Linked DNA regions of Homo sapiens. The protein of the gene in region 1 interacts with the protein of each later gene in a pairwise test. Each region holds a gene or a part of one and is shown on either strand. Other genes may lie near its edges. The genes, in order: EIF4E3 and AANAT.

Region 1 (15,270 bases):
GATTATAAATCATTCTACTATAAAGACACATGCACACATATGTTTATTGCAGCACTGTTCACAATAGCAAAAACTTGGTACCAACCCAAATGCCCATCAGTGATAGACTGGATAAAGAAAATGTGGCACATATGCACCATGGAATACTATGCAGCCATAAAAAAAGCATGAGTTCATGTCCTTTGCAGGGACATGGATGAAGCTGGAAACCATCATTCTCAGCAAACTAACACAGGAACAGAAAACCAAACACCACATGTTCTCACTTATAAGTGGGAGTTGAACAGTGAGAACATATGGGCAGGGCACAGGGAGGGGACTATCACACACCGGGGCCTGTTGGGGGGTGGGGGGCAAGGGGAAGGGATAGCATTAGGAGAAATACCTAAGGTAGATGACGGGTTGATGGGTGTAGCAAACCACCATGGCACATGTATACCTATGTAACAAACCTGCATGTTCTGCACATGTATCCCAGAACTTAAAGTATAATATTAATAATAATAAAAACAGGAGCCGCTTTCAAAACCTGTATCGTCATGGATAAATACATTTTGTCCCCCAACAATTGAATTTTTGAACTAAGTGTTTTGTCTGCAACATGTAAGATTTTAAAATTGTGTTTAGAATGAAATATACAAATGGATACGTTAAATGGCTATTGAGATTTGTTAGAAGGGGGGTATGTTATAATCACAAGTCACTGATGCATTTTTATGGGCAGAAATCTTCCCAGACTCTGGTAACACAAGGGAACACTCTCAACTACTCAACGTCTCGGTGAAGGCCTAAACATGACTTCAACCTTTGCTGTTTTATTTTGAGTGACATTCTAGGGCTGCTCTGTCTGGAGTCTCCACATGGGCAGAGAGACATAGATTATTTAGCAGAACAAAAAAAGGAGAAGATCAAAGCAATCAACTCTCATTTTTGAACTCTTAGAATTTGACACATACTTTCTAGCAAAATGTCCAGTAGAAACTATTCATACTGCACAGCTCCTGTCCTGGAGACTATAATTCTGCTACATAAACACAAGAGGCATAAACCGTCCTTGAGGACAAGACACAACACTGACAAGAACAACTGGATTTAAAACCACAAACCTTCAGTGAAGTTTCTACAGGCCCAACCATTTCTGCCTTATCGTGTGAAGATAAGGAATATTTGTCTATCAGCGGGACTAGTGACTTACTTAATTACCTATAGGTGGGTTTCTAAACTGTCGAACGTCAGGGGGCTCTGGTAGATTTTACCTGTCCTCAAACCTCACCTCCTGGTACAAAAGTCTTCCAGGTGTTGGAGATACTCACATAAATGAAACATGGTGGCTACATTTTCTTTAGAAAATTTCCTACACATGGGGAGGAGACAGCTTTTGCAAGTAAATATCTGTTGTACCACTTGAGATAAGGTAGGTGCCTCTTCGCAAGGCTCGCTGCATTTCTTTTGCCCCTCCTTTTTCCCATTTAGTAACCTTCCTTCCTAAATCTCCTCCATTGCACCCCCCCAACCCCCGTGGCCCCAGCCACGGCCCTCGTCTCAGCCCCAAGCAGCCCAACTTTCTTCCGTGTCTTTAGATATCTATAAGCACTGTATTTCCTACAAGTACGACTTAGGAATAAAAAAAAGTTTTTGGTGGGGAGAGGAAGCTAGCTACTGGTATTGTTTTTGTTAAAATAAGCAGGTATTACTTTTGTCCTTAACAATGGGGGTCTTTGTGGAAATTGAGAGGTTTCTGGATTCTACTGTAGAATGGAATTTTAAAACAACTGGCCACGTATCTCAAAAACAGGCCCACCTTGGTCAGACCACTGTGGTACCATGAAGCATTACTATCAAGATCTATCCATGAGAAACACTGGATAGCACGAAAAGAGCCTTCGCGTGCATTGTCTCATTTAATCTTCACACTCTGTGGTGGGAGAATTCACTATTCCTGTGACTCAGATGAAGAAACTGAGACTCAGAAGTTAGGTGGCTCACTTAAGGTCACAAGACTAGCAAGTTGGGGTGTAAGGCTGAGGAAGCCAGTCTTCTCACTTCGCAAACCAAAACAGCAATCCCCCAAGCGCGGAGAATGGGTTTCCTAAGATGGGATCTCGGATGAGCTGGTGGGAATGTTGCTCCTTCAACTCATCTAACAGCTGAACCTCTGTGTGCAGAGCTGTGTGTGATGTAAAGGTGGGAGAAGGCCTGGGAACCCTTAATCTAGTGCCACACTTACAATGGCCATACACACTATGCGTGGAATGAGTCGAAGGCCATAGAGGAGGCTAAAAGAAAACTCAAGTGCCCTCTCTGTTGCAGGAAAGGAAGCTCTTCTCTGCTGGAGAGCAGAGAACAGGCTTTGGGGAGGAGGGGGCCTTGGCTCACCCTCAGAGCATCCCTACCGGGTGAGCAGGAGGGGGCCCAGCAGAGGGCTGCAGAGAGACCAGGGGCTTGGCTGGCCGCGGCTTGGAGCACCCGTGTCGGAGAAGAGTGGGAGAGACAGCATGGCAGCATCCGGAGCCGCTCGCAGGGGGAGGGCTAACTCTCGGGGTATTGTGCTCATTGCTGGAATCTAAAATACAGCTTTAAATTATTAAGCGTCTTGGAATGCCACAAACATTTTAAAAACTGCCTGTCAGGATCAGAAAGACACTTGAAGGATCTTCAAACTGAGTGTCAGAAATGAGAGATGGGCCCGTGTGACCCAACTTCACTCCGCATACTTAACCATCCCTCGCCTCATTCCCTACTCTCCGGGCGGCGGGGCGGCTGCGTGGAAGCAGATCCCACAAACTTACAAAATAAGATCCCACGGTATATAGATTTGTGCATGCTGCCCACATATTAAAGGAAACACTCATCAGGGCCTTCTTTTAAAAATTGTGCTATAAAGGTATAAACCCTCCATTTTTTTTTTTGGAAGCCTTTTTGGGAAGGACATGAAGCACCCCCAGAACAGTCAGGGGACCATATTTTGTGCAACAGCAATTCTTCTAAATATAGACCATAGAGCAATCACAAGAAGGATGCAAGCGATGTCCTTGGATGCTCCGCAGAACAGGAGGATGACAAAGCTGCTAAGAGGGTTTTGCATTGAAATCCTGCGCTCCCCGATTTAGCAGAAGGCTTATTTCGCCCTCTCACATGAGTGGGCTGCCGGAGTGGCCCCAGAGCAGTTGCATTTTGAAGCCATTACTTTACCTTGTCCTAGTCCTGCCTTAACAGGTACATAAATTCCCTGGACTTGGGGAGTTTCATTTTTAACCCAGCAGAAGTAAGTTTACTTAACCAAACGTGGGCTCTCTCTAACATTTGCCAGATATCACCGGGCGATTTTTTTTAACCTCATCTTCACAGCAGAAACATAAAAGGCGAGATCTATAAACATTTCAGATTCATAATATACTACTTCCTCTAGGTTCTTCTAAGTGGAAACTTTGCTCTTGAGAAAAGGTGAGCATCTACTAAAAAGTAATTTTCTCTTGTCAGGAGGGCTCGCCATGCACTTGGTTGCAGCTGAAATGTGTTTTAATAAGGCCTTTCTCCTTTACAAGCCCGGCTTGCTTTTAGTTCCATCCCACAGCCTGAGCAGGGAGGAAGATGGCTCTCAGATATCCTTTTGTTACCCTAATCAGAGCCAGAAGGGCTGTATTGACTTTCAGGCCTTGGGGAGTTGTAGTTCTTTTGTATCCATCTCATCCAAGAAATCAAGTTTGATTAATTTGTCATCAAGTAAAACGTGTGATCTGCTCGGAGCCCGGCCTTTGAAGTGGAAGGATGAACTTGGGCTGCAAAGTCCAGGTCAGCGGGCGAAACAGCAGTGGTGCCGAATCGAACAAGTTCTTCTCCGCAGAGCTGCCTGTTCTCATTTAAAACATCTTTTTTCTTTTTTTTTTTAAACCTTTTCCACACACGTCTTCTGGGTTGGACTGCTCCCTGGCTGGGGCCCTCTTTTGTTTACTTTAATTTAAAAAATAGAGTTATCAGGGCTACAAAGCAAGTAAGACCCAGAAAACATTTAGCCACTCCACAAGGCATGGGGGTGGAAGGATTTGACCTCTCTACAATCTTAAAAGACCACTGTGAGTGAGAGAGCCACGAGGGCTGAACCCGGTGTCAGCACGTGCTTCTGGAATGAATAATCGGAAGGGGTCTCCAGCTGGGTCATGGGACAGATGCTCATTTATGATGCTCTGGGCTTGTTGACCTGCACTTAGTGGAGTTCCCAAACTGCTGAAAATGCATAAGGTAGTGGCCGCAAGATATTATTTAATCCTAGACTTAGTGTCATATTTCTTGTTCAGATGCTATATATGCTTTATAAAGAGTTACAGGGCTTTTAAAAATTACAGAGTAAGCAATCTTTATACATTCCACAGTATAAGGATCCCCATATTTCACATGCTGGTGCACAGGCCTTTTGATGACTGCTACCCCTCAGGTATATACATGAAGACACAGTGAATTATTGGCCAGGAGTCAAGGGCTTGTTTGGCTTTCAAAGATGTTTAAAAAGCACCAACAAATTATAAACAGCCTCTGTGGTTACTGAATTCAGTGTCTAAGCTATTATTATTATTGGAGAATTTGAAAACAATAATGAGATTAGTAAAAAAACACTCAGCTTTAGAAATCTAAGGGGTTTTTGACTTAAAAAAAAAAACACCGCTTATGACAACATTCAAACATTCCTTCATTCAAACATGCATTGCATTCATACTTACATGCCAGGTATGTGCAACTCAAAAATGTCTAAGATACACTTCCTGCATTTCTTATAGTCTAGTAGTTCAGTTTTAATATTTACCAATCCACTAAATTGTCAGCTCCATGAAATAGGAATGATGTCATGTCTTGTTTTTGTATCCCCAGTGCCTAACACATCATAGCTGTTCAAGAAATATTTGTTGAATTAATGAGTCAATATTGTATATGGTCTATATCTCAGCAATACTAAGGCCTATTAACTTTCCTTTAAGGTAGCCAGGATTAAAATAATAATATAATAATTATATATATATATATATATATAAAAAACATAATATGCACATCATACAGGGAACTCTTGGGAGCTTCTCACAATTGTCCCCTCAGTGACAAGTTTGAGTGTCTGCAATCCAAGATGGACAATAGGAGACTTATGCTTCAGTGAGAATTTGTTCAGCCTCTAAAACATTTTCATCAACTGTACTTTTTTTTTTTTTTTTTTTTTTTTTTTTTTTTTTGAGACAGCGCCTCGCTGTGTCGCCCAGGCTGGAGTGCAGTGGCATAATCCCAGCTGACTGCAACCTCTGCCTCCTAGGTTCAAGTGATTCTTATGCCTCGGCCTCCTGAGTAGCTGGAATTACAGTCGTGCACCACCATGCCCAACTAATTTTTGTATTTTTAGTATTGATGGGGTTTCACCATGTTGGCCGGGCTGGTCTTGAACTCCCAGCCTCAGGTGATCCACCCAGCTCAGCCTCCCAAAGTGCTGAGATTACAGGCATGAGCCACTGCGCCCGACCCTGAACTTCCTTCTTATGTTATGATGGCAATAATGCTCTTAGAAAATAATTGGAAAGTTCATTTCGGTTTTAAGTTGGTTTGTGGCAAATCAACGCAGAAGTCAAGTGCACAGAACTCAAGTAAATGGGGATGATTTGTTTTTTCCCAATATGGTACAATAAGGTAGAAAGATCATAAACAAGCAGTTAGAAGACTAATGGGTTTGGCCACAGTGTTGCCACCTCAACACTGTTTGTTGTAGGACCTCAAACAAGTTAAGCTGGGCCAATACCTGAGGAGGAAAGTGGGAAAGTTTCCTTGAAGCAGTTCATTCTCTTCACTGTATGGATGAATTGATACAGCCAACCAATGGAAGTACCATTTACTAACTCTTTACCACATCCAAAGGGCTGAGCTGGGTGCTTCATATGTTACTGGCTTTGAAGAAGCTCTACCTTGCCCTTCTAAAAAGGAGGAAACTGGGGCTCAGATATGTTGAGGGACTTGCTCAAGGCACAAGCGAATAGAATTTCAACCCAATAAAGCAAATTCCAAACTAAGCTCTTTGCATTGCGTCAGTTTGCTTTCTTTCTGATTGTTCATATTCAAGGCTAAATTGGGCATCCCGGACAAGTTCAAATCCAGAGAGAATCCTACGGTCTCCCTGTACTCTTAAGTGGCAAAACCACCAAACCTTTTACCAGAACACCTAACATTCTGGTCAAGAAACCAAATTCCATCTTCTCTGCTCTTCTCCTTTCCAATCCCTGGTAGAAGCATTTGCAAACACAAATAGTTAAAGGTCACCAGTAAGAAGTAGAAGAGGGATTTTGCATGATCCATCTGTGCTGGGATAATCCGGAATTGGCCGTGAATATGTTGAAGGGCCTACACGCTACATCAGTAATTCTTTTTCACCTGCCATCCACACCAGCAAATGTGTTATTCTTGTACATTCTTTGGAGAAGAGTGTTAGGCATGTGTGTCTGCAGATTGGGCACTCAATAAGTGAGACAGAAAAGCAAGCTTCAGATATAAATTTTTTAATTCCCAGTTAAAACCTTGAGAAAATAAGCAAGTAGATGGTGTGTCCTAGCTATAAACTGGTTTTAAGACAAATCTGCTTACATGGAGTTGTCGCAAAGAAGCAGGTTAGAAAACATGCATTTTTTCCACATAATATATGGAATGAAGAAAAGATCATTGATTTTAACAGCCAGGAGATTTGGGATATAGCTGCAACTTTGCCACCAACTACTTGTGTGACCTTGAACGAATTCTTTATACTTTCTGGGTCATTTCTTCATCTGTAAAATGAAAAGTTTGAACTAGGCCAGTGATTTTTCCATCTTTTTCTTAAAGCTGTAAAACCTTTTCTTTGTAAACAAACTCTCATAAGGAATCTCAAAATTCTTGCACATCATATCTTCAACTTCCACCAAGGCAGCCTCACTGAAGAACAGGCTGGAGCCACAGTACCTTAGATGTATCTTGGTTCTGCAACTGACTACTGGTGTGACCTTCGGCAAGTTATTTCACCTCTCTGAACCTCATGCATATGTTTCCACATACACAAACTGGGGACAACAATGACAGCATCTACCTCGTAGAGTGTTGGGGAGAACTAACCTCTATGCTTAGATGGCATGGAACTCCATACATGCTATTGTTATTGTGGATATTATAGCTATGGACAGAGCCACACACTACAGCAAAAGCACATTAAATTCTGCCCAGTTACTAACTTACGGGGGTATCAATTGCTTATAGTGTGTCATTTTGCACTCATCATTTAAAAGACTTACAAATAAGTTTTCTGAACCAACGTTCATAGTTAGAGAAGATTCTATATGTAAAATGATGTTTATCACCTGTGATAAAACCAGAGAGAAATGCAAGTGTCTCCTGTAGGTCAGGATAATGGTTATTTTAGTGGAGAGGGCGGGGACACAAGAAAGGGCTCCTGGGGTGACCGGCAAAGTTCTATTTCTTGGCCTGCTGTTATAGAGTGTTCTCCTTGTAACAATTCAGTAAGTTACACATTTGTTTTGTGTGGTTTTCTGTACCTTTATTTTACAATAAAAAGGTTTTATAAAACCTTTGTTTCATTTCATAAAACAAAATCAGTGAGTACATAAGTTATACTTACTGGCTTCCAAAATGTTAAAATTTGGCCATGTGATGCATGTCACTGTGTGTTATTGCTTTATTACACTTTTAAAAATACTTCTTAAAATGTATTTTACAATGAAAACTTTGCCATATCTGAAAGTGTTTCTGTGGAACCACCCTTCTAGGGAACACTCTTTGAAAGCTGATGGACCTCTGTTAAAATGTGGATTCCAAGATGTTTGTTTTCAAAAAAAAAAAAAAATTCTGAAAAACAGTCTTGTCCTTTATAACTTGACTATCTTCATGAAACACTAATTATTTTCGCCTTAAAAAGGGGACACGGCTTTAGTGTTTAACCTTCACTTCCATCATTCTTTTCCAGTAAGCATGAATCACAAAACTCAAATGTTTCCTAAGATCTGAAACCTTTCTCTAGGTCCATACTTTATATAATCCTATATGTGCAAAAAACAAATGATTTAAGTTTCCTGAGTTAAAGAGGAAATTGGGGAGTAAGAGCTTGTCCACATCTTTAATGCTTAGAGGAGCACACACATTTAGCCCTGCCATCTGTACAAATGGTACCAGAGTTCAACATGCTTACGATTATAAAGAATTTATGATTTATGCTTGCTAGTTAAATATGCTTATGATTTAAACTTATTTTCTCTGGCAAGAAATAAGCTAGTCAGCACCACAGCCTAGCCAGATGATGGGAAATAGAAACATATTTTAATGACATATATTTTAACTTGCTGGCCCTTGCAAATGCTACTGTTTTTTCTTTTCTTCATGTAACAAAAGAACCATCGTCTTGTAGGATTCCAGAGATTTTTTTATGCATTCATTAACGAAAAGCAGTTAAAAGTTCTTTAATAGCAGTTACTGCAGCGAAAGGATCACTGAGGAAGAAAAGGCATGCATGGTCTTGGCTTCCAAGAAAACTGTACGTTAGGTGACAAGGCAGAGGAACCTATGCTAATAGAACAACCGAGAACACATTCCAAAAAGTGCATCAATAACGACTAGATGATAAAGTACACACAGAATGCATGGTGGCAGTAATCAGATGCAAATATGAGAGGGAAACATTATGAAATTTTAAAGCCTTCCTAGTGTTATGCCCTGCTCTTCAACGATTTCATTAAATTCGCTGTGTTAAAATTAATTAGGCATCACACATAAGATCCTGAATTGCTTGTTTCTGCAGGGAGAGATAGGAAAGTCTGCAGATGAATGGAAGAAGAGTTTGTTGGTACGTTTTGTTTGTTTTTAAAGGAATATATTAGACAGCCAGAAAGGAGGAGTAAATTCACTTTACTTGCCGAAACAGGGGACAACTGAATCTCACCAGCAAATTGCAGCACAAAAGAGCAACGAGAGTAATTGACTTATTCTAAAACGGAACCATTCTTAATAGAGGGTAAAGAAAAAGAATTAAAATAAGCAAGATACGTTTTCTAAGAGACCCAGATGAGCCCTATTATCAAATGTGTTCAACAGGGAAGTGTAAAAATAACAACAGTTACTCCCCATCAGAATACCAGATAACCTACTAAGCGTCAGACTCCATGCTAGCAGCGTCACACATATTAGAGGTGTTGGACAGAAACTTTTAATATGTGTTGTAATAAACAAGGTTATTCTAATCACCACACACACACTGGAAATCTAATAATGATTAAGTGATGTGGTTGATTAAACTGCATGAAATTTTTAAACTGGAGGATGAAAATGACATTTCTATACTATAAGAACCTCAATACAGAATGAGAATTAGTAGCAACAGATTACAAAAGATCTCAAAATAAAGTTCTACAAACTAACACTTAAACAAACCCTGTGAACTACTACCCTGAAAAATGAAGAAGCACAAATTCATAGCAATATAGTCCCAAATTAGAAAATTGCAAAACAGTCTAAACATTTGCACTAAACACATAAATCACTACCTTTTCAAGTAAGAAAAGTATAGTCTAGTCTTACCTTATTGCTGCAAAAGGCTGGAATAAAAAATACTGACTTATAGAAGCAACTTTCACATGTATCTGAACATCAAACACAACACACAATATAAAATCAAAAATAACTAGAACAGAAAAGTTTTCAGTCTGACCTTAAAAATACTGAGCAAATCACTAGATGAAGCCAGATCAAAAGGAAGGGCATTACACCAGCTTGTAGCCAGATGTGAAAGGGTCCCCAACTGCACAGGGCACAGATGGTATAAAATAGGGGGGTGGGGGCACAAGCAGATCCAAAACATAATCAAACAAACCTGGTTCAACTTACACAGGTAAGACTATTCTAAAGAATTAATAACTTTCAATGTAAGATTTTAAATTTGGGACAAATAATGTTAGCTGTCTCAAGCTAAAGTATGCTCACTAGTTTAAATTTTGAAATTCTTTTATATAATCATTGAAATAAATTCTCCATGAGAATATATTCAAAGTCATGGTGACTTGTTTTAAATGAATACTGAAAAGACAGTGTTAAAACTTAAAAACAAAAACAATGGTTGTAAGCCACATTATCTGATTAAAGTCTGAGAACTTTGGGGAGAATTTAATGTATATCCACAGCATCAATACCTCTATTTGAAAACAGAAACACTGTAAGTTTATTAAAATGTTCAAAGTCCTTTAATATTCACCATTCATCATGTAATGTAAAGTGCTAAAATTAAAATTTTCACCCTAAGCCTTCATTAAAAGTTGCTTATTTGTATGTGAAAAGATGAGAGGTAGCATAAATTTTCTATAGAAAACTCAGAAACACTCAATTTACTTCATGTTCAGTTCTATAATGCAAAGTTGACACTTTAATAGATCCGAAATAAACATCTGTTCCAAAATAAAAGTTCAAGAAAAATTATCTGACTTCGATATTAGAAATTGAAATTTTCATAAAGAAATCTTGCATTTCACTAAATGAGTTGGTAACTTTTTTCAGGCAGCAACCAAAACAAAAACATTTAACACAGATTCCTTCAATCTCATGATTTCTGAAGGACACAAAAGCATAGAATATCCAAAAGCTATTGTATTGGATATTCTAATAAGGTACACTCAAGACACACATATACAATGGAACTCTGAATTTCAGTAGCAATGATGAACAAAAAAATACTGACTTTGCAATGACTTTTGCTTATCACTCACATCGTTTAGGGAATACTTATTTGATTTTTTTGACATTTCTATGTATTAAAGGATCTCTCCAGTTTAGTAACAGCTTTGCTAAGCTACGTTTTGAAAGTGACAATTAATTTTAGTGGAAATTCATTCCCAGGCTACTTTGATAGTCATTTGAACAGTTTTGTGTTATTTTACATGCAATTTTATAGCTCTATAACGTTCATTTAATCTTGTTCAATGATGCTGAACCCCAGATGCCATAAGACATTATAGAAAAGTAGTTACTGCACATATGGAGTAACTACTTTTCTGAACACTAATTTCTTTTCTCTTAACAGACTGAAATGGTATTTAGAAAAGAGAAAAACCACCACTCTGTATTAAAGGCTTTATATTATGGACTTCCAGGGATGGGCTCCCATGACTGCTGTGGTCCCAGCCATAAAGTTCTTATTCACGAGCATCATCTACTCAAGTCTCAGTATTAATGGTTTTCTCCAGCCTTCATAAGATTGTTGGTATCATACATTGGAATCAGGTCACCTGACAGAGCTTAGGGTTGGGAGGCTTTCCTCATTTGTCATATGTGGGAGTTGGATAAAATCAGGGGTTCTCCAAGAGCGATCTGAGCACCATCAGCATTAGAATCACTAGGGCACTTGTTAAAAATGCAGATATCCTCCCAGATTTCTAGTGCTGGGGTCAAGAAATGTGAATAATAAGTAAGTATCTGAGTGATTTTGCTGCATGCTAAGGGGTGAGAAGCACTGGTAGATGATCTCAAAGGTCCCTTCCACTCTAAAATTCTAAGAGTCCCTGAATGTTCTTTTAAAAATGGATTTATGTCAGCAACATGAAAGAATTTCTAGAACACAAGACAGTGACTTTTGGCCTGAGTGGGCCAATCTGAATAAGTATTCTTAGATTTGGATGTATATGTAAAAATAATAGAAAATAAAATCAGAACAGTATAATCTGACATGAAAGGAATCTATTTGGGATTTCTTCTTGGGAGAAGTAGAGGGGCAACCCACTCTAATTGCTATAAATGACCACAGGTTCAAAGGGACTTTTCGTTGCCTCTCAGTCCCTATTTTTTCCCACTTCACCCTCTGACTCCTCCCAGCTGTTGAGATCCAGGCTTTTTACAATCCTGAGTCACCAAACTCTTGAGTAATTTTAACTGATCTCAATATATTCTTTTCAGAAGTGAACAATTCACAGGCAGTCCTCTACTTTCACTTGTAATGAGTAAAATCTCACAGAAACATACAATGTAGGAAAGGTGAAGGGTAGAATTACATTTTTAAAAGGAAGTTCCATATTCAGAGTGCTAAAAAAAATCAACTCCTAATTTTCTCTCTTTGGGCATAATATTTGATGAAATATTTTCCATATCTCCTATATGTGAGTTTATTTTATTCTTTTTCTTCCCAATCACTTATAAGGCCAATGAGAGCCTAGGATTTGAGATATTTTAAGCACATCTGGAGCGATCTAGCTTTGACACATTTTTATTAGGTGCATGAAAACTAAATGTCTTATTGCCAAGTATCATTTTTACATTTTCTCGTCAAATTTTTATAAAAGCTTAAGAGCAAAATGCAGTAGGATCTTAAAAAAATTCTACAAACATAGCTGGATAAATTCTGCTGCTGAGCCAGAACTGTTGGCTGGAAGGCAGCGCCACCATGCGATCGTTCCAAAGGCTGTCAGTTTTGTCTAAAGACACAAGCTGGGATCCTCTAAGAGTTGGGCAACTAATAGCAAAAGCCCACTTCCTGTCATAGGAAGGTTATTTTCAAACTCCAAACCCCAGCACCACTTCTGTCTCTGAGAGGGAGAGGGAGAGAAGGAGGAGCTGTTTACAAACAGGATGTCTGATTACGGAGTTACACCAGTGGCCAGATTGGATCAGATATTTAATGCTTGATTAGGGTGGCTAGTGGGCAGGTTAAGGCTGGCAGATTCTGAGTACTCTCCATTTAAGGACGCCTGCACCGGGATACAACTTGCCGACTTCAATACCCAGCTCTGTGGCTGGCTAGCCCTACGTCTTTAACAAGGGACAAGTTCGGCCAAGGCTCAGTTGGTGGATTGTATATTATGTCTATAGGACCCAATTATACCTAAAGTTTCTAAGCTATAAAGTCTTGTGACTGTGTGCATGGTGTAGACATGGGCTAAACTCAAGAAGAGGGGTGAGAAAGAGTCATCTTAATCTTTAATTTAAAGTTTATTAGAGTTGTGGTTTCCTTTTCATGTTTTTGCTTCATAAAGTGTACCACGAATCTAACAGCAATATTATATTAAATGTACATGTTTGCAGTAAATTACACCCTCATTTAAGAAATGTGGAAAAGTTGGGGGGAAAGAGGAAATCTTAAAACTGAGTTAAGTCAGCAGTTCAGCAAGTGCTTACGAAAGACAGTCAAAATATAGGCAAGTTACTTTAAATGGGTATTATTTGTCCTTACTTTCCCAATGTAGGCAAGTGCCTGTGATATAACAATTTAGGGAATAATGGGAGAATAAAAAGCATATTAGTTTCAATCAGATTTCCTGGCATATATCACAGACCCTAAGGAATTACAAAGACAAAAAAGCAAGCTCTTTGGTTTCTGCATGGTTCTTTGCAGACTACAAGGCTGCCCCTGCAAGCACTTGGATGAAAAGACCGGGATTCTACTGGAAGTTTGCACTTTCCCCACATCAGCCAAGATGGGTAAACTGCCTTAACACAAAAGTCACATGCCCCACAAAATATTTCCTTCTATCTCAAAACAGTATTAGCTTCTTTAATCTAAGAAGGTAATGAGAGGTTTTTAAACTGATTAAATCAGCTTAGTTCATACAAAGTCTATTATGATTAAATATTCAATTAAAACAATTTCCAAACCAAAATCTGACAAAATCCTCTCTGAAAGTAATTTAGATGATAGGTTTTTAACATTAGGCAAATTAAATCCTTCTCACAGTTGGTATTTTCTAAAGGGTCAGAAACAGTTGCAGAAGTTCACTGGGGCAAAAATCTACTTTGTGTGCTAGTCATGTTCCATGATCATAAACAGAAACTAGAAATATTAACGTGAGCCTAACATTCCTATTTATTTTTACTTCAAAGGCTACATACATGCAAAAGTTGAACATGTCATCACAAATGCTTTAAATAAAGTTCAAAAAATAAAAATACTTCAAAATCCATTTACTTATGGAAATATACATGACAATTAGAGTGAAGTCAATTATATCCTTTTTTCAATCAGAAAAATACTTATATTATAAAAAAGTTTTAATTCATGTCCAGAATAATTTTTTAAAATTCTTGAGTCATAATTTTAAAACAAGTTGAATGTTAGTACAATGTTTGGAGAAACAAGTCCTAGGCTTTTGCTAACTGGATCTGATATTCTTATACTTCATTTTGAAATCACTAAGGAAACTCAAGTTTAGGGAAAAAAAAAAAGCATTTTAAGAAACCTATGATGGTAAGTATTATGGCTGAGGTGGTTACTAACCAAGTGAAGGGCACAACTTCCATAAGCAGATAATGTTCAAAGTCCTTTAAAATGTTTGAATGGAGAATTTTATCTACAAACACATAGTGGAGGCTTAAAGTAGCCTCAAGTCTCTCTGCTGGTCAACACTGCAAGAGGAATTAAAAATCCCAGGTACAGTGAAGTTCTGAGTGCACTGCCCTTTTGAAAAATGTGTGAGCAGGCACTAGCTCCCGTGACTCCAAAGCCGACTGGGGGAAGTGTCTTCAGATGGCCCTGCCCTTTATCAGGCAAAAGCAGCCAAAGGCTTGGCAAAGTCAGGAGAGGGAAATCAGCGTATTCTGAGCTAGTCTCCATGGTCCAGAGGATGACCATTTCCTTCTAATAAAACCAATATTTCTTTGGTAGCATAATACAATATATATCAACAATCCCAATAATTCATATGAGCAGAATGCACTCAAAGTTCAACTTTGTAAATGTTCACATGCATCCTGGAAATGAGATTTAACTTCCTGCACCTACATGAAAAAGGGTGGGGACAGCTGCCCAGGCTGGAGGACTACTGATGATGAGAAATGACACACAATGTGAGCAGGGAAAGGGATCATTTAACAAAATGTGTTAGCGTTGACTGGGAAAGAAAGCCCTAAGTGGGTAAACACACCCGAACTTTGCAAGGAGCTTAATTCAAACAATTAAAATATCACCTTCTCTTTAAATCAGAAACATCAGGTTTCCTATTGGAAGAAATCCCTTGCTACCACTCTAAGCCTTTGGTTGAAAAGGCCAAATTAAAATTCGGGTTAGAAATGTTTCCACAGAGGGTCCAAAGACTTAGAGCTTGATTTATATCCTGATACTGAATTGTGATTATAGTTTTCATGTTATGCAATCCAACTATTATTTTCCTTTTATCACTAAAAAAAAATGTTTTAAAAAGGAAAATTAAAGATTTGTGTGCTGTCAGTGCAAAATCACATTAAGTATGGTTTTTCTTTTCCCTGGGACAGAAAAAAACAATGCCCAGCTCACAGTACATA
Region 2 (16,929 bases), on another chromosome or scaffold:
GGCCTTTGCCGGCCTCTTCGCCGCCCTCGTGCTGTGGCTGTACATCTACCCCATTAACTGGCCCTGGATCGAGCACCTCACCTGCTTCCCCTTCACCAGCCGCTTCTGCGAGAAGTATGAGCTGGACCAGGTGCTGCACTGACCGCTGGGCCACACGGCTGCCCCTCAGCCCTGCTGGAACAGGGTCTGCCTGCGAGGGCTGCCCTCTGCAGAGCGCTCTCTGTGTGCCAGAGAGCCAGAGACCCAAGACAGGGCCCGGGCTCTGGACCTGGGTGCCCCCCTGCCAGGCGAGGCTGACTCCGCGTGAGATGGTTGGTTAAGGCGGGGTTTTTCTGGGGCGTGAGGCCTGTGAGATCCTGACCCAAGCTCAGGCACACCCAAGGCACCTGCCTCTCTGAGTCTTGGGTCTCAGTTCCTAATATCCCGCTCCTTGCTGAGACCATCTCCTGGGGCAGGGTCCTTTTCTTCCCAGGTCCTCAGCGCTGCCTCTGCTGGTGCCTTCTCCCCCACTACTACTGGAGCGTGCCCTTGCTGGGGACGTGGCTGTGCCCTCAGTTGCCCCCAGGGCTGGGTGCCCACCATGCCCCTTCCTCTTTCTCCTCCTACCTCTGCCCTGTGAGCCCATCCATAAGGCTCTCAGATGGGACATTGTGGGAAAGGCTTTGGCCATGGTCTGGGGGCAGAGAACAAGGGGGGAGACACAAGTAGACCTCAGGTAGAACGACACTGGGCGGAGCCACCCCAGGGCCTGCTCCCAGGGAGTGCTCGAGGCGCATCAGGCCCGTTTTTTACCAGTTTATATCACGGTCTTCATTTTTAAAAGTAACGCTAACTTTGTACGGACGATGTCTCATGGATTAAATAATATTCTTTATGGCAGTACATTGTCTTTAACGGAGACCTCAGGTAGCATGAAACTGGGATTTGGGGGTGAGGTGAGGGGTCAGCCATCAGCTGCTCAGAGACAGCAGTTTGGCCCGGTGGACAGCAGAAAACTTGTGGAGCATCTTGGGGAATTAGTTGGGCCAGAAAGCAGATTGGGGTCACGTGGGAGACCCCAGGGGTCCACTTGGGAGGGCTGGGTTGAATCCTTAGGGCCCTGGGGTTCCCACCCCTACCTGTTCTGCCTTGGCTCCAGAGCAGGGAAGGGGCTGCCTGGGCCCAGGGTGGCCTGCCCTGATGGGGATGGCACTGAGGGGACCTGTCACCCCACCCGGGGACGAGTCCACTCCCTGTGCCAGTGCCTCACCCACCACACTGAGGATGGCCAGTGAGGCACCGGGTATGACCACTTGATTACCATGGGCAGAGGGCCCTGCACCAGCTTCCCTGCCCCAAGCTGCCTCTACAGCACAGGCCTCCCGCCTCTGCCCCATCCTGCTGCTCCCCACTCTCCCCCACCCTAGGGGCTAAGGGTGGGAAGCGGCATCCATGAGGCTGGGGAGAATAAGGACACCCCCCCCCCCCACCGAGCAATGGGCTACTGTGAGGATGCCGCCTTGGTGCCTTTGCCCACCTGCCAGGAGGAAAGGAGCCAGGAACCCCACAGCACCTCCCATTGTCCCCGCTTACCAACCCAGCCCGGTCTCAGGTACAGAGTTCAGAACACAGGAGGTCCAGAGGCCTCGTGGGGACAGACAAGACACACCACTCCAGCTCAGGCCGTGAGAAGCCACCTTATCTCCTCTTTATTTAGCCCTGCTCTCTCCACTCTCTGGAAACTGCTGTCTCCATGCTCAGCTGAGCTAAGAGGAGCCCAGGGCAGAGACGGGGATCATGTTGGCAGCCAGGTGGGCAGCCCAGTTCAGCAGCCGCTGTTCCTGCGCAGGAAGGGGTGGCCCCGCAGGGAGCAGTGGAGCTCCATGAAGGTGAGGGAGCCCACGGTGATGGCGCAGGGGCCCACGGCGTGGAAGCTGAACCTCTCATAGAAGGGTACCAGCGCGTCCTCGCACATGAGCGCGGCCCGGCGCACGGCCGGCTGGCTGCCCAGGTGGTGCAGGTAGCGCCACAGCAGGATGGGGCCCCTGCCCTGCTGCCGGAAGGCGCGGTGCACGGCCAGCACATGCAGGTGGGCTATGTGGCCCCCAGACCTGTGCAGCGTCAGTGACTCCTGGGAGCGAGCAAGGGATGAGATCCCAGGTCACTTCTGCTGACACGTGCTCCCCCCCAACCACCAACCCAGGCAGGGAGCAGGTGTCCCCTGGGTGCCTGTGGTCAGGGCACCCACCCCAGCAAAGGAGGGCCCCAAATTGGGAGCCATACCCCCAACCCCATGGAGAAAACTTGAAGACCCAGAAGGTCTTGCTCTGGGAGGGGCCTGTGGCCTGTACTCATCTCTCCAGTTCTGGAGGAAGAAATCCCAGCCCCTGGGCTCCCCTCCCCGCCATCTGGCTGACCTCTGTCTTCAGAGGCCTCCCTGGAGCTGGGCGTCGCAGCCCTGTCCTCACCTGCATGAGTCTCTCCTTGTCCCAGAGCGAGCCGATGATGAAGGCCACAAGGCAGCCCTCCTCGAACCAGCCCAGGGACAGCTCTGGACATAGGGTCAGGAAGTGCCGGATCTCATCCAGGTACAGGGGGCAGACGCCCAAGACGGAGATGAAGGCTGTGGCAGGAGGCTCAGGTGGGTGACTGGTAGTCGCTGTGCCTCGCGTCCACTGTCTGCTGCACCCCGAGTGTCCACTCAGATGCCCCGTTCCCCACAGGAAAATGGGGGTTAGGGCTGCTGTTTCCCCCACTTTCTTGAGCGCACACATGGTCTGATACTCTGGGACCCAGCCTCCAAGGACAGGAGACTAAGGGTCTCCTCCCCACAGGATAACTGGACCAGAGTGGAGCATCCCTCTGACCCTGTGCGGGGCCACTCACCTTCACGCTCGATCTCAAAGGCGCTGACAGCGTCCTCCGGGGTGAGGCAGCGAAACTCACTGGCAGGGAGTGTGTGGCGCCGCTGACAGCTCGGGGACTCGGGGATCCCAGGTGGCAGACGTGGGGCCTCAGGTTTCAGGGGGTGGGTGCTCTGCGTGGACATTCTGGCCACTGGTGCCTCCTTGGGGCGCCCCAGCTTTGGAAGTGTCCTCCTAAGCCAAGGAGGGCCTCCCAGCACCTGTTGGAGAACAGCAAGGGACAGGGGTCTCATCCTCATCTCCAGGGAGGCAGGCCCCAGAGTATGTATCTGGCCTCTTTTGTAGCAGGAACTGGGGTGGAGACAGCCCCTAAATCAATGGGCACATTCCCCAGGTACCTGGTCCCCGAGGCTGTTACCAGGCATTGCAAACATTGGCACTGTCTCCCCACCTTTCCCTCTCAGCCAGAAGGATCCCTGGAGGTTTGCCACCTTGCAGACCTGCAGACATTGGTCTCAGGGTGCCGTCTGGGTGCTTCTGAGCCCCAGAGATGGTGGCAGGGATGAGCAGGGCTCAGTGGAGCCTGGGGCACCCCAACCCTGCTGCCCACGGTGGGAGGGGAGGCAGGACTCGTGACCCTCCACTGACCACGTCTAATGCAACTGTGCAGTGGGTGGGCGCCCGGTTCCCCCACACCACCATTCATGTGGTTTATCTTACCTCCCCAGAGGGAGGCTTCTGGTCCTTTGGGTGCAAGATCCTGTGGCAGAGAGCTTTTTAGGTAGCCTCAGCCCTTGGTCCTAGAGAGCCCCTTAATCAAAGTGGGCCCTTAGGGAGCCTCTACTTCTATCCAGATGGCCTCAGACTGGGCCACACACATGCAGGATTTGTGGTGGGGGGTGGGGAGGTTAGAGGGAGCCGGGGGCTGCAGAGGGCCTGGGGAATGGGGAGGAGCAGGCAAGGAGAGTGCATAGGACACCCCCTGCCCCACACATCCAGCTCATCAGACATTCCCCTCTGGGCACTCTTGTCTCCCAAGACACCCTGCAGATTTGCAGTTCTTAGAGGAGGCCATCCCTCCCTCCACCTTCCAAGACACTTAATAAACTCCATGGCTTCCATGTTTCCCTCCATGTCTAGAAGCTCCAAGTAGAGAAGCTCCTGTTCCTAAAGGCTGAGAGCCAGGAGTGGGGGTCCCACCTACCTGGACTGTGGAGAGGATACCCAGTGTTCCCTCCACAAAGCCGCTAGCCCTGGGGGCCTGTCCGCAGGCACGGGAACCAGTAAAATCCGGGACTCCGGGCTGCAAGGCTGTAGTAGCAGATGTTCCCCGGGCAGCCTGTGGTGCTGTTAGAGGTTTGTAATCCCCCCACCCCACCTCTCGAGCTATCCCAGGCAGGATGACGCCAGCAGGGCTCTGGCAGCCTCGGCCCCTGCCTTGCTGAAGGGAAACGTCAGCTCTGGTGCCCTGGGCACAGAAGGGATTACCAGAGGCTGACTGAGGCCCCAGGGTTTGGGGAAGAGAGCGTGGGGCTAAGCCTCAGGGGTCCATCTCTAATCCCTGCTCTGTCACCGACTGGCTGGGCACCAGCGATTCTCCCTCTGTCCCTCGGAGTCTTGGACAAGCCCACCTCTTATGTGGGGGGAGGGGGTGGGAATTCAAGCTACCAATTTGTGCACTTTAAGTACGTTCTACTTCAAGTTTATTTAAATATTTAATTTAATTAAATATTTAAATATTCAGGAGGTTGCCCTACCAAACATCTCAACTACAAAGCTCTCTGCTATTGACCTTGGCTCCACCCATTCCCAGGGCTGCCCAGGCCTTGGCACTTGGTGCTGGCATTCCCTCGGGATGCAGGCCCCTCTCCCTGTTGGCTCTGACTACCCCCTGCCCTCCAGCTCACACCCCATCCTGCACCCCTTAGCTCTTCTCTCGCCAGCACCTGCCTCTCCGCCCCACCCAGCAGTGCAGATCCTGTGTCCATCTCGGGCTCCTGGGGGTCCTGGAGGTTGGATTTCACAGGTGCACTCTTTTGACCCCCTGCAGAGGAAGCTTCTGCTCCTACCCACACAGCTTGGGACGGACCTCTGAGGGTCCTTCCTGTCCTGGCAGCCTGTGAGTGCCACTGCTTACAGCACTTGCTATGTGCCGGGCCCTGGATACGCGTCTCCTTTAATCCACACGGAAGCCCGGCCAAATGAGTATTAACCACGTTATAGAGAAGGAAACCGAGGCACAGACAGGTTCAGTAACCTGCTCAGAGCCATCCAACAAGTGAAGGGGGAGGGGCAAAGCCGGGTCAGCCTCCTGACATGCACTGCCACGGCTGCACTGGTGGGACCCACTCATCTCACAATGAGACTCCTGTTTCCTGTCTTCATGATTCTCCTGCTGGTTTTCAGTGTCCTCACAGGTGCACTCTTTCGACCCCCCCGCAGAGGAAGCTCCTGTTCCTACCCATACGGTTTGGGACACAGCCCCTGACCGTGGAGTGACCCCGTCCCGATGCCCCCGCCCACCCACCACATGCATTCCTCCTGTCTCTGGGTCCCCTTCTCCCAGGGCCCCTCTGCACTCTGAGGCCCACCTGCCTGCTAGAAGGGACCCTCAACAGACCTCTCAGGACCGACCAGAGACCTCCTTGGGCTTGGTTGGTGGGGTGGTCATGTCCAAGACCTCAGCTGGGCATCCCCACCTTCAACCTCCAGGGTCCCCCAAAAGGCCTCTTCTGTCCCTTCATAGACTGTGGCTCCATGGCACCCCCTGGTGGCCAATCCTAATCAGTCACTTGGCGATGCCTGAGAAGAGCCTGCTGTTCAATCGGCCTCTCTCTTTGCTGACTTCCACATGGCCCTGTTCTTTCCGGACAACACCCTAGAGGTCTAGAACCTCAGGGAACAAGATGAGGCAGTAAGCCAGGCACAGTGGCTCACCGCTGTAATCCCAGCACTTTGGGAGACAGAGACGGGAGGATGGCTTGAGCCGGAGAGGTCGAGGCTGTAGTGACTCGCCACTGCACTCCAGCCTGGGCGACAGAGCGAGACCCTGTCTCAAAAAAATACAAATAAAAATAAATTTTTTTTAAAGATGAGGCGGTATGTTAAACATGGTGAAACTGGGAAGTTCAAACCCTTGTGGGACAGGAGAGGAGACAGGGGAGGGCAGGGTGATCGCTGGGACCTTTGTCCTGGTCAACAGGAAGAAAACCACATACCACCACCAATGAGAAGGAAAATAAGGAGGGTGAGGGGCCCAACAGGGTGATGGGTACAGAGAGAAGGAGATCCCTGGGGCTGGGCATAGTGGCTCACACCTGTAATCCCAGCACTTTGGGAGGCCAAGGCAGGAGGATCACTTGAGCCCAGGAGTTTGAGACCAGCCTGGGCAACATAGCAAGACCCCTGTCTCTACAAAAAATTTAAAAATCAGCCAAGCATGGTGGCACACACCTGTAGCCCCAGCTACTTGGGAGGCTGAGGTGGGAAGATCACTTGAGCCTAGGTGGTTCAGGCTGCAGTGATGAGCCACTGCACTCCAGCCTGGGTAACTGAGCAAGATGTTGTCTCAAAAAAAAAAAAAAAAATCCTGACCTCAGGTGGGCTCTAAAAAAGAAGCACCTCCGAGATCATCCTCACGCCAGGGACACCGATTGCACTGTTTATCAGATGCCCAGTCTTGTCCTGCTATTGCAGTTAAGAGTGCTGGCAACGCCTCTGGTGACTGCCTCTCAGGTGGATCTTGGGGATGGGGGGGAGAATGTGTCCTTTGCCCCCCAAGTCGTACCTGTTCAGTCACTCTAGACAGCTGATAAACACCTAACCTGATGGGCAAGGCCGGGCACGGTGGCTCATGCCTGTAATCCCAGCACTTTGGGAGGCTGAGGCGGGTGGATCACCTGAGGTCAAGAGTTCGAGACCAGCCTGGCCAATATGGTGAAACTCCGTCTCTACTAAAAATACAAAAAATCAGCCAGGTGTGGTGGTGGGCGCTTGTAATCCCAGCCACTTGGGAGGCTGAGGCAGGAGAATTGCTTGAACCCAGGAAGCAGAGGTTGCAGTGAGCCAAGATCGTGCCATTGTACTCCAGCCTGGGCAAAAAGAGTGAAACTGCTATCTCAAAAAAAAAAAATATATAGATACAGACAGGGAGAAGCTGGCATCTGTATGTTTCCCAGGGGTGCTGTAACAGATGATACACAAACTGGATGACTGTAAACCACAGAAATGGCTTGACGTCGTGGCTCATGCCTGTAATCCCAGCACTTTGGGAGGCCGAGGCTCTTTGTTCCCAGCCTCTCCCTCCAGCAGCAGCTCCCTTGAAAGTCCTGTATCCACAACTCACCCACCGCGACTCCCTGCCCAGTGTGTACCATGCCACCCTGCCTCACCCATGATGGCTCCCCTCAGGGGTCCCCCTGTCTCTCCACCCAGCCTGGCCTCTTTCGATCTCCCAGACAGATTTACACATTTCAAATGCCAGATGGGGTTCAGTTTTCTCCCAAAAGGCTCTTCGGTCCCATGAAAATCATGGTCTGTGACTGGGCTTCCACTTCAAGACTCCAGAATATTCTTTTTTTTTTTTTTTTTAAGACAGAGTCTTGCTCTGTGGCCCAGGCTGGAGTGCAATGGCACAATCTCGGCTCACTGCAACCTCCGCCTCCCAGGTTCAAGCAATTCTCCTGCCTTAGCCTCCCAAGTAGCTGGGATTACGGGCGCACACCACCATGCCTGGCTAATTTTTTTTATTTTTCCTAGAGATGGGCTTTCGCCATATTGGTCAGGCTGGTCTCAAACTCCTGAACTCAGGTGATCCACCTGCCTCAGCCTCCTAAAGTGTTGGGATTACAGGCGTGAGCCACCGCACCCAGGCAGGACTCCAGAATATTCTATAGCAGTTTGGAGAGGGGTTGTCCAGGGCACACAGAGAACTGCCAGGGACCATGCTACCTAACTCCCCACCTGCCCTGGTAGAGCCTCACCTCTGACCCATCAGAGCCCCCATCCCACTCCTAATCAGATGTGGTGAGGATGATGACGACAGTTATTGAGCGGATAACTGATATCATGACAGTAAAAAAGGTTCTGAGAGGATGTGTATCACCACACGAAAGCTGAGAACCAAGCTTTTGGGATGTCCACTGTTAGCAGGGAAAGGAGTTATTAACAGGAACACAGGTGAAGCCACAAGAAGGGAAGAACCCAGGGGAGAATGTCCAAGAAATGGGGCAGATAGAGCCTGAAATGCCACAAAGAATGGAGAACAGATCTCAGATTCTGCCAACAGGGAGGCTCCGATGACCTTTAAGAATCCTTCCAGAAAAGGCCGGGCACGGTGGCTCACACCTGTAATCCCAGCACTTTAGGAGGCTGAGGTGGGTGGATAGCTCGAGGTCAGGAGTTCAATAGCAGTCTGGCTAACATGGTGAAACCCCGTCTCTACTAAAAATACAAAAATGATCTGGGCGTGGTGGTGGGTGCCTGTAATCCCAGCTACTCGGGAGGCTGAGGCAGGAGAATTGCTGGAACCCAGGAGGCAGAGGTTGCAGTGAGCCAAGATTGCACCACTGCACTCCAACTTGGGCCACAGAGCAAGACTGTATCTCAAAAAAAAAAAAAAAAGGAATCCTTCCAGAAGGGAGAAATGGGTGGAGAGGCCAGATGCAGAGGAATGGCCTTAATGGTGACAGTGAGAGGTGGAGTGCAGAGGCCGTTGATTAAAGGCACACTGACTCGCTGCCACGGCCGGGGGTTGGAGAAAACCTCCCCACGGCCCCCACCCCATCCCGGGCACCGAGCCTGCTGCAGCTGCTGATACCCCCGGAGAGCCTGGTGCAGGGGCAGTGAGCATCCCCACCGGGCCCAGTGCAGAAGCCCTGGACCTGGAATCTGGGAGCTTCCCGCATGGAGACACACCCCCTCCCCTCCGTGTGTCAGCTGCCCAGTTTCACACCCAGACTGAAGGGAGCCCATTTGGGGCAGACCAAGGAGTGGGCCCCATGGCCATGTCCCAGGGACACCTTGACGATGCCTCTGAGATACCGGTTTTCCATGCAGAGCAGTTGAGAGGCCCGGCGTGCAGGAAGCATAGCCCTCTCTTCAGGCTCTTGTGCAATGGCTGCATTTTTTTGGTGGTTTCGATGGTCACTTTCTCTCTCAACTCCTCCCCTGCACTAAAGGTCTGCCCCACAGACCTGGCACTGAGCACATCTCGCGTTATCGTCTTTACCTTTCCAGCCTGAGTACTACCACGTGGCAGGCTCCCCGGGGGATGAGAGATGGAGAACTGTGTGCGGCAAGTTTATTGGGGAGAGGTCTCATGAGCGACCCCTACCATGGAGCAGGGCAGAGGGCTGGACAGTGGAAGCTGAGCCGTGATGGTGCAGCTGTAACCGAGGCCTTGGCGCATCCCCCGAGGAGCTTCAGACTTGGGAAGCCCTTCTGGACCCACCTCTTTGTCCTGCATCAACCTTGGGTGGAACAGCTTGCTTCATTGAGGGCAGTTGCAGGAAAATCCAGCTGGGAGCCGTCAGCAGTCCTGCCCACTGCGGGTAAGAGCCCTGAATCACTTTCTCCAAGCTTCCAAGTACCAGGGTCCTTGCCAGGGTGATAAATTCTGTAACAGGGAAAAGAGCTCCCATACCAACACACGTTCCTTATCCAACTTTATGCTCTGATCCCCTTGGCCCAGCCAGCATCCTCTGATTCCAGTCCCCACTCTCCTGGCTCTGGCTGGGACCTGCAGCTCCTTCAGGACAGAGCCTCCTTCCTCCCTTAGCCGACCCAGCACTTCACCAGTAGGTGAGGTTGCGATTTAGCCCTAGTTACTGGCCCAGTGCAAGAAGAGGAGGTGCAGTATATACTCAGGGTTGGGAAGGGGGTAGTACATGTCTCCTAAGGAAGAGGCATTGTCCCCAAGGAAGGAGGGGCACTAACCTCTGTCCCTGGATGGCTCCCGCTTCTCCCCAGGGGCCTCCTCTGTATCGCTGACTCATTAAGGTTGGGAATTCAACCTGCTCTCAGGCTCTGCCATGCTGACTTCTCTCTGTTCCTTAACTTCAGGAGGCGAGTTTCTTTACATGCTGCCAAGGAGGCCCTCTGGCTTTTCCACTTTGCCTTCAAGCAGTGATTCTTCACCCCCAGCCTCTGACTGCCTTTCTCCTCTGCACTGACTGCCCCAACAGCCATCCAGCCCCCCAGTCCTTACACTTACTCCATCCCTGTACCTCTCAGACACCTGAGATGTTGCACCCACCACTGACTGATTGATTGATTGATTGATTTCTTCCTTCCTTCCTTCCTTTTTTTTTTTTTTTTTTTTTTTTTGGTGGAGGCTCACTCTGTCACCCAGGCTGGAGTGCAGTGGCACAATCTCAGTTCACCAACCTCCACTTCCCAGGTTCAAGTAATTCTCCTGCCTCAGCCTCCCAAGTAGCTGGGATTACAGGTGCCCACCACCATACCCAGCAAATTTTGCATTTTTAATAGAGACGGGGTTTCACCATGTTGGCCAGGCTTTGTGCCCCTTACAGACAGTCAGTGGTTGGGGGAGGCATCTTCTTTTAGCCAAGGGCAGTGTTTGGAGAGGGATGTGATGGGGAGGTGCACCACAGCATCCACTACACACCTGTCCCCCCAAGAGGCTTATGCACTCCTGGAAAACAGAGGCTGGGTTGAGAATGTGGCATCGTGCCACCCACAGAGCAGGTGCCTATCAGCTAGAGGCACAGTCTTCTGTTTTTTTGTTTTTGTTTTTGTTTTTTTTTTAAGATGGAATCTCACTCTGTCGCCCAGGCTGGAGTGCAGTGGCGCGATTTCGGCTCACTGAAACCCCCGCCTCCCGGGTTCAAGCAATTCTCCTGCCTCAGCCTCCTGAGTAGCTGGGATTACAGGCACATGCCACCACGCCTGGCTATTTTTTGTATTTTTAGTAGAGACGGGGTTTCACCATGTTGGCCAGGCCAGTCTCAAACTCCTGACCTCAAACAATCTGCCCCCCTCAGCCTCCCAAATTGCTGGGATTATAGGCATGAGCCACCACGCCCGGCCCAGAGTCTTCCGTTGAGGTGGGTGACTCAAAGGCAGGGCTGAGTGGGACCCTGCCTTATTTGGGGCTCAATATCGCCGTATTAGATAGGCACTTACCTCAGGAACCTTCCAGACCATTCTGGAATGGAAGCATCCAAGGCAGGGAGGGATTGCCACCTCCTGGACAAAGAAGGGACCTACGGCTCCCCAAGTAATGGAGCCAAACTGCCCAATAGTAAGATTGTGTGAGCCCCACATGTGATTTTAAATGTTCTAGTAGCCACATTTTAAAAAGCCAAAAGAGGCTGGGCACGGTGGCTCATGCCTATAATCCTGGCACTTTGGGAGGCCAAGGCAGGAGGATCGCTTGAGCCCAAGGAGTTCAAGACCAGTCCGGCCAATATAGTGAGACCTTCTCTCTATTATTTTTTTTAATAAAAAAATAAAAAACAGGCCAAGCTTGGTGGCTCATGCCTGTAATCCCAGCACTTTGGGAGGCCGAGGCAGGTGGATCACCTGAGGTCAGGAGTTTGAGACCAGCCTGGCCAACATGGCAAAACCCCATCTCTACTAAAAATACAAAAAAATTACCCAGGTGTGGTGGTGGGGCATTTGTAATCCCAGCTACTCAGAAGGCTGAGGCACAAGAATGTCTTGAACCCGGGATGCGGAGGTTGCAGTGAGTCGAGGTCCTGCCAGGACACTCCAGCCTGAGCAACAGAGAGAGACTCTGTCTCAAAAAAAAAAAAAAAAAAAAAAAAAAAAAAAAAAAATTTCCTGAAGTAGGTGACTGAGGCTGGAGCACAGAGCACTCCATGCTGGATGCAGAGGGGGAAGGGGGGTTGGAAGGATCAGATCAGTTTATGAAAGGCCACATGCACCTTCTTGGGTGGACCCTGGGGAGCCACAGAAAGATATAAAGCCAAGAGTCCAATGACCGTGCTTGCATTTTCAGTCACCCTGGGAACAAGGCAGCAGACAGATTAGACGGCCTGGGGCCTGGTGAGGGGCCTACAGCCGAGGTCTAGGCAAGAGATGGAAATGAATTCCTAAGAAAAGCTAATGTTATCAGGCCTGCCATCATGCACTCACTGGGCAAAGCACGTTATATTCAGTTGGTCAGTTACAGTCTCCACAGTCCTATGAAGTAGGTATTATTATTATTCCCACCTTACAGAAAGGAAACTGAGGCTTAGAGAGTAAAATAACTTGCCCAAGGTCACATAGTGACCAGCAGCAGCACAAGCTTCAAACCCAGGTCCCTGTGACTCCGGAAGCTCACTCTCAGCCACTGTACCTCCCACCTCCCCACATCTCCATGGATCTGCCCCCCTGGTGGGGCAGCTCTGGACAGGAAGGGTGTGAAAAGGCAGTGAGGGGCCAAGACCCAGGCTTTGATTGCATGTAGAGCTTAAGAGTGAGGGCTGACCCTCAGGTGGCCAGCTCAGTACCCAGGTAAGTGATACTGCCATCCATCAGGATGAGAACTCTGGGAGAAGAAACTATTTGAGGAAAAGATGATGAGTCTACTTTGTACCTATGGCTGGTCACATCCAGGAAGCACCCACGAGTCTGGAGCTGTGGGAGGTGGCAGTGGATAGGCTGACATATTGTTCTTGAAGCTGGTCCAGCAGATTCACTGTGCCTCACCCTGTATCTTCAGGAAGGAGGGAAACAGGACGAACCTGGTGATCCTATGCTGTCACTATTGCTCAAACTTTTCACTGTTGCCCCAGCATAAAGTGTTTTGCCCAGTGGATTGCAACCCACCCTCACAGCAGGAGTCAGAATGGCCAAGGGCCAGCTGGGCTGGGTCCTGATCCTGACTGTACTGCAGAGTGACCTTGGGCAAGTCCCACAGTTTTCCCAGGGCACCTGTGCAAGGAGCAGGTGAGGCTCCAGGAATGAGAAGGGCCGTTTTAACTCCAAAAGCCTTGAGCGGCATTCAGCTGGAGCCTCGGAGGCATTTCTTCAGCCAGCCACATGAGGGTGTGGGGGGTTTCCCAAGGCAGCTCACCTCCCACCCCACCCCCCAGCTGAAGTCCCCAGTGCCTAAGGCACCCTAGCCTTCCCAAACACCTGCTCCAGGGTGGAAGGAGCTCTTTGGGCCAGGCTGAAATCGCTTGCACAGCAATGGAGAGGCCAAGCAGGCTCCCGCAGAGGGCAGTGTTGGGCCTGAGCATACTTTGTGGGTCCAGAGAGGTGCTCCAGTGGCTGGTTAAGATAGGGACGAGACAGGGCCTGCTTCCCTGAGACCAGTTCACTCTGCTGCTGGCTCTGCCGCCTCCTGCACACCACCCACCCCACTTAGCAAGGGGAGAGGCCAGACCAGCTCAGTTTCTGGAAGCACATTTATAAATAAGTGAAATCCTCCCAAGAAATAGCTCTATTCCCCACGAAAGGCTGGGAGATGGGGCCATGATAAGAGAGGGTTTCTTCATTAGGGAATCAAGTTTTTTTCCTCCTTCCTACACCTCAACAATGACAAAAATAAAAACTAAGCAGCGGCTTCCATCCACACTTACCCTGCTAGCCAGCCTGAGTGTATGGAGACCGTGGCTGGGGGCTCAGGGTCTGGGAAGGAGTCAAGCCTCAAACCTTATCCAGAGCATCTTGGGTCTGAGTGAGGTCCATAAAAGACACCATCGGATGGGTAGGAATTTACTGAGTCTCATTCTCTAAAGCAGCTCAGATGCAGTTGAAACTGGGGGCACTTGAAAGGATTTGGAGCAGCCAAAGAGGGCAGCTCTGTCCCAGCTTCTTCAACTTTTGGTTGTTGGAAAAAGGATAGGAAACTGACAGAATGGAGGTACAGGTTCTCAGGCCTTTGATATCCGCTAACATGATAATTTTCTTTTTTTCTTTTTCAAGACGGAGTCTTGCTCTATCTCCCAGGCTGAAGTGCAGTGGCACAATCTCAGCTCACTGCAGCCTCCGCCTCCCGGGTTCAAGTGATTCTCCAGCCTCAGCCTCCTGAGTAGCTGGGATTTCAGGCGCCCGCCACCAAGCCTGGCTAATTTTTGTATATTTAGTAGAGATATGGTTTTGCCATGTTGGCCAGGTCTCAAGCTCCTGACCTCAGGTGATCCACCCACCTTGGCCTCCCAAAATGCTGGGATTACAGGCGTGAGCCACTGTATGGGCCTAGCCTAATACGACACATTATTGAGCTCCATCCCTATGCCAGGTACTGTCCTAGGCACCAGGGTTACACACACAAATACAACATGGTCCACATGCTTAAGGGTTTAGTCTAGTGAGGGAGAGATCAGCATGTAAAATCAAGGAGTCTTACCTCCAACCTGGCAGTATCCTGATAATCTATGTAAAGCACTTAGTAGAGTATCTGGCATGAAGTTACAGCTCAATAAGTGATAGCTATTATTAGCCATTATTACAAGAAGCCGCAGAATAAACACAACACGTCTTCCAGGAGTGCCGATATTACTCAATGATTAGGGAGGAAAGGGCATTAGTTTTTACATTAAAACAACAAACATAGGCATACTCTGGAGTACAATGCAAAACTCACTTGATTTTTTGACAACAAAAGCAGATTTGAGGCCGGGTGCGGTGGCTTATGCCTGTAATCCCAACACTTTGGGAGGGCAAGGCGGGTGGATCATTTGAGGTCAGGAGTTCGAGACCAGCCTGGCCAACATGGTAAACCCCGTCTCTACTAAAAATACAAAAATTAGCCAGCCGTGGTGGTGGGCGCCTGTAATCCCAGCTACTCAGGAGGCTGAGGCAGGAGAATCGCTGGAACCTGGGAGACGGAGGTTGCAGTGAGTCAAGATCACGCTACTGCACTCCAGCATGGGCGACAGAGTGAGACCCTGCCATGAAACAAAAAGCAGATTTGAGGTCTGCACTGCCTTATCCCGCCGTGGGACACATAGACACATGGACTCCCCTGTGCAATCAGGAGTTCTTCTGAGGGAAGCCTAAAGAAATAGCATAACTACAAAAGCCCCTGCCCTTAGAGTGGGGAAACTCCTCAGGTTACTACCTGTTACCTTAGGCGCCAAATTCCTTGGGCCCTATTTCTTCATTGGTAAAATGAGGTTAAAAACTCTCTATATCCAAGATTGTGATAACAGACAAGATAATGTGCTTGGAAGTACCTGGTACAATGCCTGGTCAATAATATGTGCTTAATAAATGCTATGTTATCAGGGGGCAAGAAAACAGGGCTGAAAGGGTCATGGGAGGCAGAACAGAAGCTACTATGTTACTGCTGTTTAATCTCCCAGGTCTCTACAGGAGAGGGAGTAGGGACCTGCGTCCTTACAGCAGTGATTCCAGATGGTCATTTGGCATTGTGTTCTGGGATGGGAAGGCCATGGTTTGAGAACCCAGCCTTGCCCCAAAATCATATCCTAACTCCCCCTTCAGCTGATTCAGCCCATTTGTTCTATATCTTAGTAGATAAATTTTCTAAGATTTGGGTCCATTGACAACCACCCTGATCCCAATATTACATCAATACTCTATTAGTACTTGGCCTAAGACATCTTAAGTACTTAGGCTGCCATCTGTTTTGTGCATGTTCTTTTTTTTTTTTTTTTTCCTGAGATGGAGTTTTGCTCTTGTTGCCCATGCTGGAGTTCAATGGCTCGATCTTGGCTCACCACAACCTCCACCTCCCGGGTTCAAGTGATTCTCCTGCCTCAGCCTCCTGAGTAGCTGGGATTACAGGCATGGGCTACCATGCCTGGCTAATTTTGTATTTTTAGTAGAGATGGGGTTTCTCCATGTTGGTTAGGCTGGTCTTGAACTCCTCACCTCAAGTGATCCGCCTGCCTCAGCCTCCCAAAGTGCTGGGATTACAGGCGTGAGCCACCGTGCCCGACCTTGTGCATGTTCTTTTAACTTTTCTCTCTCTTTTTTTGAGACGCAGTCTCGCTCTGTCGCCCAGGCTGGAGTGCAGTGATGTGTTCTTGGCTCACTGTAACCTCCTGCTCCCGGGTTCAAGCGATTCTCCTGCATCAGCCTCCCGAGTAGCTGGGACTACAAGCATGCGCCACTACACCTGGCTAATTTTGTGTTTTTAGCAGAGACGGGGTTTCACCATGTTGGCCAGGGTGCTCTTGAACTCCTGACTTCAAATGATCCATCTGCCTTGGCCTCCCAAAGTGCTGGGATTACAGATGTGAGCCACCACACCCAACCAACTTTTCTATGAACATAGTTCTGTATCTTCAGGATCCTGTAAACAACACAAAGAGCTGGGATTCTGCCTTCTTTGAAGAACCTAAATACTGTAATATCCAACTTACTAGTCTTTCGTTGATGATCGTGTAGAAAAATGTGGAAAAAATGATGTTGACTGAGAAAGGTTAGGGCCAGATCTTGTTTTCCTTAACAATCCATTTAAATCTGTCCTCTGAGAATGTATCTAAACCCTTTGAAACTTAGGTGACACATTAAATTAGAGTTAGTTTTTTTCTTTTGAGATAGAGTCTCACTCTGTCACCCAAGCTGGAGTGCAGTGGTGTGATCTAGGCTCACTGCAACCTCCAACCCCCAGGTTCAAGTGGTTCTCGTGTCTCAGCCTCCCAAGTAGCTGGAATTACAGGCGCCTGCCACCTTGCCCAGCTAATTTTGGATTTTTAGTAGACATGGGGTTTTGCCATGTTGGCCAGGCTAGTTTTGAACTCCTGACCTCAACTGATCCACCCACCTTGGCATCCCAAAGTGTTGGGATTTCAGGCGCAGTCAAAGTGTTGGGATTTCAGGCGTGAGCCACTGTGCCCGGCCTAGAGTTACTTTTTTTTGAGACGGAATCTCACTCTGTCGCCCAGGCTGGAGTGCAGCGGCGCGATCTAGGCTCACTACAACCTCCACTCCCCAGGTTCAAGTGATTCTCCTGCCTCAGCCTTCCGAGTAGCTGGGATTACAGGCGGCTGCCACCGCGCCCGGCTAATTTTTGTATTTTTAGTAGAGACAGGGTTTCACCATCTTGGCCAGGCTGGTCTTGAACTCCTGACCTCGGGTCTCCCACCCGCCTCGGTCTCCCAAAGTGCTGGGATTACAGGCAAGAGCCACCACATCCAGC

Evidence for each region.
Region 2: the proteins of EIF4E3 (region 1) and AANAT interact in binary tests that used the Homo sapiens proteins (3 or more experiments, as listed by UniProt).

The regions. Positions count from the first base shown.
Region 1 is NC_000003.12:71,668,909-71,684,178, forward strand, and holds the end of EIF4E3 (eukaryotic translation initiation factor 4E type 3), read right to left. Parts: 3' UTR 6,506-15,270; downstream 1-6,505. UniProt on the Homo sapiens protein: Recognizes and binds the 7-methylguanosine-containing mRNA cap during an early step in the initiation of protein synthesis. May act as an inhibitor of EIF4E1 activity.
Region 2 is NC_000017.11:76,454,846-76,471,774, reverse strand, and holds AANAT (serotonin N-acetyltransferase), read right to left. Parts: upstream 4,173-16,929; 5' UTR 4,048-4,172; intron 3,104-4,047; coding exon of another isoform or gene 3,029-3,103; coding exon 2,866-3,028; intron 2,659-2,865; exon of another isoform or gene 2,603-2,658; coding exon 2,448-2,602; intron 2,111-2,447; coding exon 1,805-2,110; 3' UTR 1,658-1,804; downstream 1-1,657. Other genes in the region: RHBDF2 (inactive rhomboid protein 2), read left to right, coding at 1-142. UniProt on the Homo sapiens protein: Controls the night/day rhythm of melatonin production in the pineal gland. Catalyzes the N-acetylation of serotonin into N-acetylserotonin, the penultimate step in the synthesis of melatonin.